Linked DNA regions of Homo sapiens. The protein of the gene in region 1 purifies or fractionates together with the protein of each later gene. This does not show direct contact. Each region holds a gene or a part of one and is shown on either strand. Other genes may lie near its edges.

Region 1 (3,500 bases):
CGGACTGTGTCCTAAACACTTCCCATATGATAACTCATTTCATTAGCATAACAACTCTACAAGGTAGCATTGTGGTCATTCCCATTTTACAGATGAGAAACTAACTGGGACATGAGAGGTTAAGATGACACAGCTAGTGTCAGAGCCAGACTTCCCATTTGGGACACACCAGGTCTTCATGACACAGAGCCGCTGCTTCACTGCCCAGGCCATTGCCTGGGGCAGCTGGTTGTAGCCCGCCCCTCCCACTGCCACCCCAACTACTTCCCAGCAGAATAGGCAGAAAGAGGGGGCTCTCATGATGGCAGGTCTGGGTTAAGTGAGGCCTGGCCTTATGCATAGGTAGAGAGAGAGCCTGGAGCTGGGCCCCACCACTGTGGGAAACATAGGGAGGGCACGGCGACTTGAAAGTTTTCATTTTCCTCCTTCAGATTTAACCTGTTAACCAAAGTTCAAGGGAAGGAGACACAGTACATTTCTCATGTCTTTCTGGGAAACAAGGTGCTTCTTAGGCCTAAAGGAGAATTGTAAGATGTATCTGTTTGATTCAAGTCCAAATGCAATGATCTAGACCTTACAGATGAGGGTGAGAGATTTCACATGTGCGTGTGTGTGTGTGCACGCGTGTGTGTATGTGTGTCCATGTGGGGTGGGGGCAGGTGTGGGATTGCATTATGTAGGTAAGTGCCTCAAGTCTGTGAGTGTGGCCTGGTCCCTGGCCCCAGAGGCAGGGGCTTCTGGTAGTGGACTTTTTGCAGTCCCTGGAGGCATGGCCTCTCTTGCACACTGCCTGCCTCCGGACACTGAGTCTGGACTCCTACATGGGGTTAACACTCAGTGAGGACTGACAGCTTGATTGGCACTTGCATGACCGCTGAGCAGCGTGTGCTCCTGTTGTGCCAGCAGTCAGCCAGGTGTGCTGTGATATGTGGTCACCCAAGCACCTCAGTGACAGAGGCCCTCAGAGGGTTTCTGGGGGCAAAGCTCGGCTGGCCTCCCTCCGGCATGGGATTTTCTCAAGGTCCCATGCTGCCTTCTCAGGTGGAGAAATCCAGGCTGAGAAAGAGGAGGGAGGGTGGGGAAGGAGGCCTGGGGAACAGTGAGGGGCTCATATTTACTGAACACTTGTTTTGTGCCAGGCTACATATTTACACCCTTTGGCTCCCTTAGTCCTTATAGTAGCTCTCATCACCCCTGGTTTAGGGAAAAAGAAATAGAAGCTCAGAGAATAATGATATATTAATATCAATAACCACAGTGTGATATCAATTATAAGATGGGTCAACTTGCATGGAGCTTAACTGTGAGGCCCAGGGCAAGTCACTTAGCCTCTCTGTATCTCAGTTTCTTCATGTATAAAATGGGGATAATAATTGTTCATCTCATAGGGCTTTGGCAAGGATGAGATGGTGCTTGGCACAAGGTTTGGTACACAGCTCGTGTTCAGTAAATGTTGGCTAAAACCACCATGACCAAGCAAACACAGCATACCAGGTCCTGGGCTAAGGGCTTTCTTTCTACTACATTGTTTAAATATCATAATAACTCCAAGAGACGTACATTTTACTTGGCAGCAAAACGAGGCTCAGAGAGGTTAGCTGAGCCGTGCACGGCCTCGAGGCCACAGAACTAGGGAGTTTGGGGGTGAGGGTTCCAGCACCTTTTATCTGCAAGAGGTTGCCCTTCCTTCCATCCAGGAGCCCTCCAGCCCTCTGCCCTGAACTCTGGTGTTCCTAGGCCCCAGCACAGCTTTGTCTTCCACCTGCGGCCAGCACCACCTCCTGCCCTAGCCCATCCTGGCTGCACTCAGATGGGCTCCTTCAAATGTACGCACCTGTCTGATGCTCAAAGGCAGGGTAGTACTCTTCATTGCTGAACAGATCAGTCCACGACATCAGGGGATCGCAGAAGGATGCATTAGGCAGGAAGGTGCTGTGTGTCACCGAGTCCAACATTACCCTGCAACAGCAGGAGAGGTCGTGAGGAGGCTGGGGTGAGGTACTCCTGAAGCCACACTGTGCAGGAGCCCCTAGCAGGGCGATACTTGTTTTTTAAAAATGATAACAAATATGTCACTCACTAGGAGCAGGCACCGCCTAGTGTCACCTACGAGTGACATTATTCCACCCTTGCCATATCCTGTCTATCCCCATTTTAGATGAGAAAACTGAGGCAAAAGGGTTGAGACAATTGCCAAAGTGATATAACTAGAAAGTGGCAAAGAGGGGACTGGAGCATGGAGGCTCTGATTATGCAATATTGCCTCTTTATTTATGTTTCCTGTTTGCTCACATCTGACCCCTGAACTCTGACTTATGATGTTCAATAATATGCTTCTAGAAACAGCGTGAGATGCAGCCATAAGAAAGAACAAGATCATGCCCTGTGCAGTAACACAGATGCAGCTGGAGGCTATTATCCCGAGCAAATTAAGTCAGGAACAGAAAACCGTATACCTCATCTTCTCACTTAGAAGGGGGCACTAAATGTTGAGTACTCCTGGACATAAAGGTGGGGACAATAGACACTGGGGACTACCAGAGGGAGGAGGCAGGGAAGGGGGCCAAGGTTGAAAAACTAACTACTGGATACTATACTCAGTACCTGTGTGATGAGATCAATAGCACCTGAAACCTCAGCATGGTGCAATACACACAGGTAACAAACCTGCACACATACCCCCTGAATCTAAACTAAAAGTTGAAATAATAAAAATAAAATAAAATTGTTTTTTTTAAAAGATGTAATCCTGCTCTGTCGCCAGGCTGGAGTGTAGTGGTGTGATCTAGGCTCACTGCAACCTCTGCCTCCTGGGTTCAAGCGATCCTCCCACCTCCACCTCCCGAGTAGCTGGGTCTACAAGTGTGTACCATCAAACCTGGCTAATTTTTGTATTTTTAGTAAAGATGGAGTTTCACCATGTTGGCCAGGCTGGTCTCGAACTCCTGACCTCAAGTGATCTCCCCTTCTTGGCCTCCCAAAGTCCTGGGATTACAGGTGTGAGCCACAGAAACTGGCCGAAAAAAATAAATAAATAAAAATGAGGTAAGAATTACTGTGTGTGATTAATCCATAATTCTGAAATCTGAAAGCTCTGAAAACTGAAAGGAAGTGTGTGTGTACGTGTGTGTGTGTTTGCTGCAATCTTATTTTCTAGCACAAAACAGTCCTGAATTGATGTTATATAGTTTTATATACTGTTTCATACATACATACACATACATACAACATATATATGTTATACAGTTTTATAACTATGGTTGCAGTTTTATTTATTGCACTGAGTGAATATTCTTATGATGCAGTGCAGAAATATTAATGTTTAGAGCAAACCCTAAACCCTGAGGGGTAATCTGTACTCCACTGTATATATACTATCTCGCCTTCCTAAATCTGTGAAGAATTCAGAATTCTGCAGCATGTGCGGCCCAAGGTTTTGGAGACGAGTGTGGACCTGTGGTAATTGCAACAAGCACTTCACTTTGGGCTTCATGCTGAGT
Region 2 (3,500 bases), on another chromosome or scaffold:
ACATATAAAAAAGTAAAATGTGTAGTCTAATTTTAAAGGAAGAAATGAAGGGAGAAAAGAAAGGGAGAGGAAAAAAAGAGGCAAAAAAGACAGACCCATCCAACCAGCCAATCAAACATTCTGGACAGCCCAGGAGAACCCAAAACTGGAAGTATTGCTATGGTCTGAATGTATCCCCCTCAAACTCACATACAAAACACAAACTGCAACATAATAGTATTAAGAGGTGGGGTCTGCAGGAGACAAGTGGGGGCCTTTAGGAGGGGATTAGCATGCTTATAAAGGAAGCTGGAGGGAGCCCATTTGCCCCTTCCACCGTGTGAGCACATATAGAAGGCGCCATCTATGAGGAATGAGCCCTCGCCAGGCACCAAATCTGCTGGTGCCTTCATCTTGGACTTCCCAGCCTCCAGAACTGTGAGCAATACATTTCTGCTGTTTATAAATCACCCAGTCTAAGGTATTTTGTTAGAGCAATTCAAACAGATTAAGATAATAAGTATCTTAAGAGACTTTGGTGTGTTTCAGAACCAGAGGTGAGAGCACACCCAGGTCGCCTGTGGAAAGCTACAGTCAGACAAACGGTCACCTGCAGCAGTGGGGCAGAGGTGGGCAGCAGCCAGGGAACCCCAAGCACTTACGGGAGCACAGCGATGGCGGCTGCCCCGGGCGGCATGCCGCTGTTCTTCCCAGCCAGGCTCTGGCAGAGCTGGTGAACAGCACCCTTGGCCATGCCGTACCCGATCATACCTGGGAAATGGGGAGAAGATGGCTCAGTGACCACTGGCGGCCAGGGGGACAGCAAGGACATGCAATCTTCTCTTGAGATCTCTATTCCCTAAAAACTTTATAAATAGCTGCATCTGGCCTCCTCCTTCAGGTCAGACGCCCTCACCAACCCCCATCAAAAAATGGCAGAGAGCCACGAGAAAGAGGGGATGGGAACACGTGGGTTGGGAATTATGGCCTCTGGCCAGTTTCCAAGAACACACAGGCTTCACACAGGCCACCGGTGCATCCAAGCTGCAGCATTCCAGGGTCCAGAAGAGGCCAGGAAGAAAAGATAAATGAACATTTATGGAGAGAAAAGTGGAGGAGACATGACATTTCAGGTGTACTTACTATTCATCTAACACTTAACATTTATTACAAAAGCCAGAAGGTTGATCTTATTTTTATTCTTAGGAAACCAAGACTCAAGACAGGTTGAGTACATGCCAGGCTCACACACAGACTTGTGCCAAAGCTGATGGAGAGGTTAAAGCCCAGGCAAGAAATGGGTTCTGAACCTTTTGATCACTAAATGCTTGTGAGCACCTGGCACACAGAGGTACTCAATGGGACAGCAAAATCAAGCAGTCACTTGGAGTATAGGACTTAAAGTCAAATTACACACATTCAAATCCCAGTTCCTCCACTTACCACTAAATAAATTCTGGGAAAGTTCCCAAAACCTCTCTAATCCTCAGTTGCTGCATCTGTAAAATGGGTTTGAGGTGTTTTCTAACACAGTCAATTCTCTAAGTCTCCAGACACCAACTGGGTGTCTGACAATTCAATTAGAACTCCCAGCTAGGTGTGGTGCCTCGTGCCTTTAATCCCAGCACTTTGGGAGGCTGAGGCAGGAGAATCCCTTGAGCCCAAGAGTTCCAAGACCATCCTGGGCAACGTAGTGGGACCCCATCTCTACAAAAATTAGCCATGCCTGCTGGTACATGCCTGTGGTCCCGGCTACTCGGGAGGCTGAGGTGGGAGGTTCACTTGAGCCTGGGGGAGGTCAAGGCTGCAATTAGCTATGATCACGTCACTGTACTCCCGTCTGATTTAAGGGCTCAGTCTCACAAGACCTACCCTACTTCAGATGGCAGTCACAAGTCCTGGGCCACTTAGACTTCTGACCAACAAGCTTAATCAGGGGTTTGCACAACCCCCTCTTCAGGTGCAATAATTTGCTAGAATGGCTCGAAGAACTCAGGCAAACGCTTTTTTTATAGTTACTGGTTTATTATAAAGGATACAACTCAGGAACAGCCAGGTGGAATGACACAGAGGCAGGGTAGGAGAGGGGGTGGGCATGGAACTTCCACGCCTGCTCCAGCCACGCCACCCTCCCAGTGCCCTCCATGTGTTCAACCCAGATGCTTATCACATCTGTAAGTTTTTATAGAGCTTAATCTCCAGCCCCTGCTTCCTTCCAGGAGGTCGGTAGGTGGAGCTGAAAGTTCTAACCTCCTAATTGCTTGGTCATTCTAAGAAGTAGCTCCATCCTGAGGCTGTCTAGGGGCCCCAACCTACTAATCACCTTATCAGTATAAACTCAGGTGTGATCCAGAGGGGCTCATAACGACACACAGGAATAGAGTACTTAATTGTGAGCATACCCTTAGCACAGGACAGGCACTCAATGAAGGTTTCCCATCAAATCAATAGAAGTAATGTGCCCTGGAACCCGACTACCTGGCTTCGTGTCCAGGCTCTGCTGCTTGCTAGTGACTGACACTGGGAGAGGCTACTAAACCTTGGAATCCTCAGTTTCCCATTTCGTGAAATGGGAATGACAATCCCAAATCCTAAGGATAATACAACAATCAAATAAAATACCATGTACAAGTGTAGCAGACAGGGAGGGTCTCCAAGGACTATAGGAGTTTCATCAGCTTGAACAATCAGCCTGTTTCACAGGCTCCTGCCCTTCAGCCTGGTTTTTCCCACAACTTGCATGGAATGCAGTCACCAAGTCAGGTGAAACCAGCAACTTATAGAGATGATCCCAAGTGGACTTTCCTCATTACCATGCTACAGTCTCCACCCGGGAGGAGCTACAGCTTCATCACCAGAACATGTGACTATGTGCTGGCGTGATGACTCACTGCATCTGTGCCACTGGGACCCCTCCTCCACATGCAATGACACACCCTTTCCCCTCTCCATCACCCCATGAAACCCTCCTGGGAGAGACGCTGCTTTGGAGAATACTTCCAGCATCCTCCTTAATTATGTCAAGTAATAAAACTCCATTGATTGTTTTTTTTCCAGGTTAACAAATCCCCTTTGTACAGTACTGAGCACAGAGGAACACTCAATCCTGGCCATTATTGTCATTCATGACTCTCAGCAGGTCACTGGCAACTCTTTTTCCTCGGACAGCAATAAGGAATTGCAAAAAGGGTCATCAACTTGGAATTCAAAAAGTGCAGCCCTAACTCCTGTTTTTCCAGCCACCAAAAAAAATCACAGGTTCTGTGGGCCTGCTTTTCCATCTGTCAGTGGGAGTGGTAACTCAGATCACAATTTATTCACAAGGCTCTGCTGAGGATGGAAGGAGACTGCATCCAACAAGGGCCTTGGAAACCATGGAGGGCACGCACAGAACCCGATCAGGGCGGAGGGAGCCCAGCCTGGTGTAGGAGGGGCTTTGCTCAGCACCTTGCCAGGGAGATGTTCTCCCAGTGACTGCGGCAGGGAGGGGGTGATGCTTCTCCCACTCTCCCAGCTCATCA

What was found.
Region 2: the proteins of ELF5 (region 1) and QDPR purify together in Homo sapiens (affinity purification with mass spectrometry; one large-scale study listed by BioGRID and IntAct). This does not show direct contact.

Annotation. Positions count from the first base shown.
Region 1 is NC_000011.10:34,503,795-34,507,294, forward strand, and holds part of ELF5 (ETS-related transcription factor Elf-5), read right to left. Parts: intron 1,960-3,500; coding exon of another isoform or gene 1,956-1,959; coding exon 1,835-1,955; intron 1-1,834. UniProt on the Homo sapiens protein: Transcriptionally activator that may play a role in regulating the later stages of keratinocytes terminal differentiation. Isoform 2 binds to DNA sequences containing the consensus nucleotide core sequence GGA[AT].
Region 2 is NC_000004.12:17,491,591-17,495,090, forward strand, and holds part of QDPR (dihydropteridine reductase), read right to left. Parts: intron 751-3,500; coding exon 642-750; intron 1-641. UniProt on the Homo sapiens protein: Catalyzes the conversion of quinonoid dihydrobiopterin into tetrahydrobiopterin.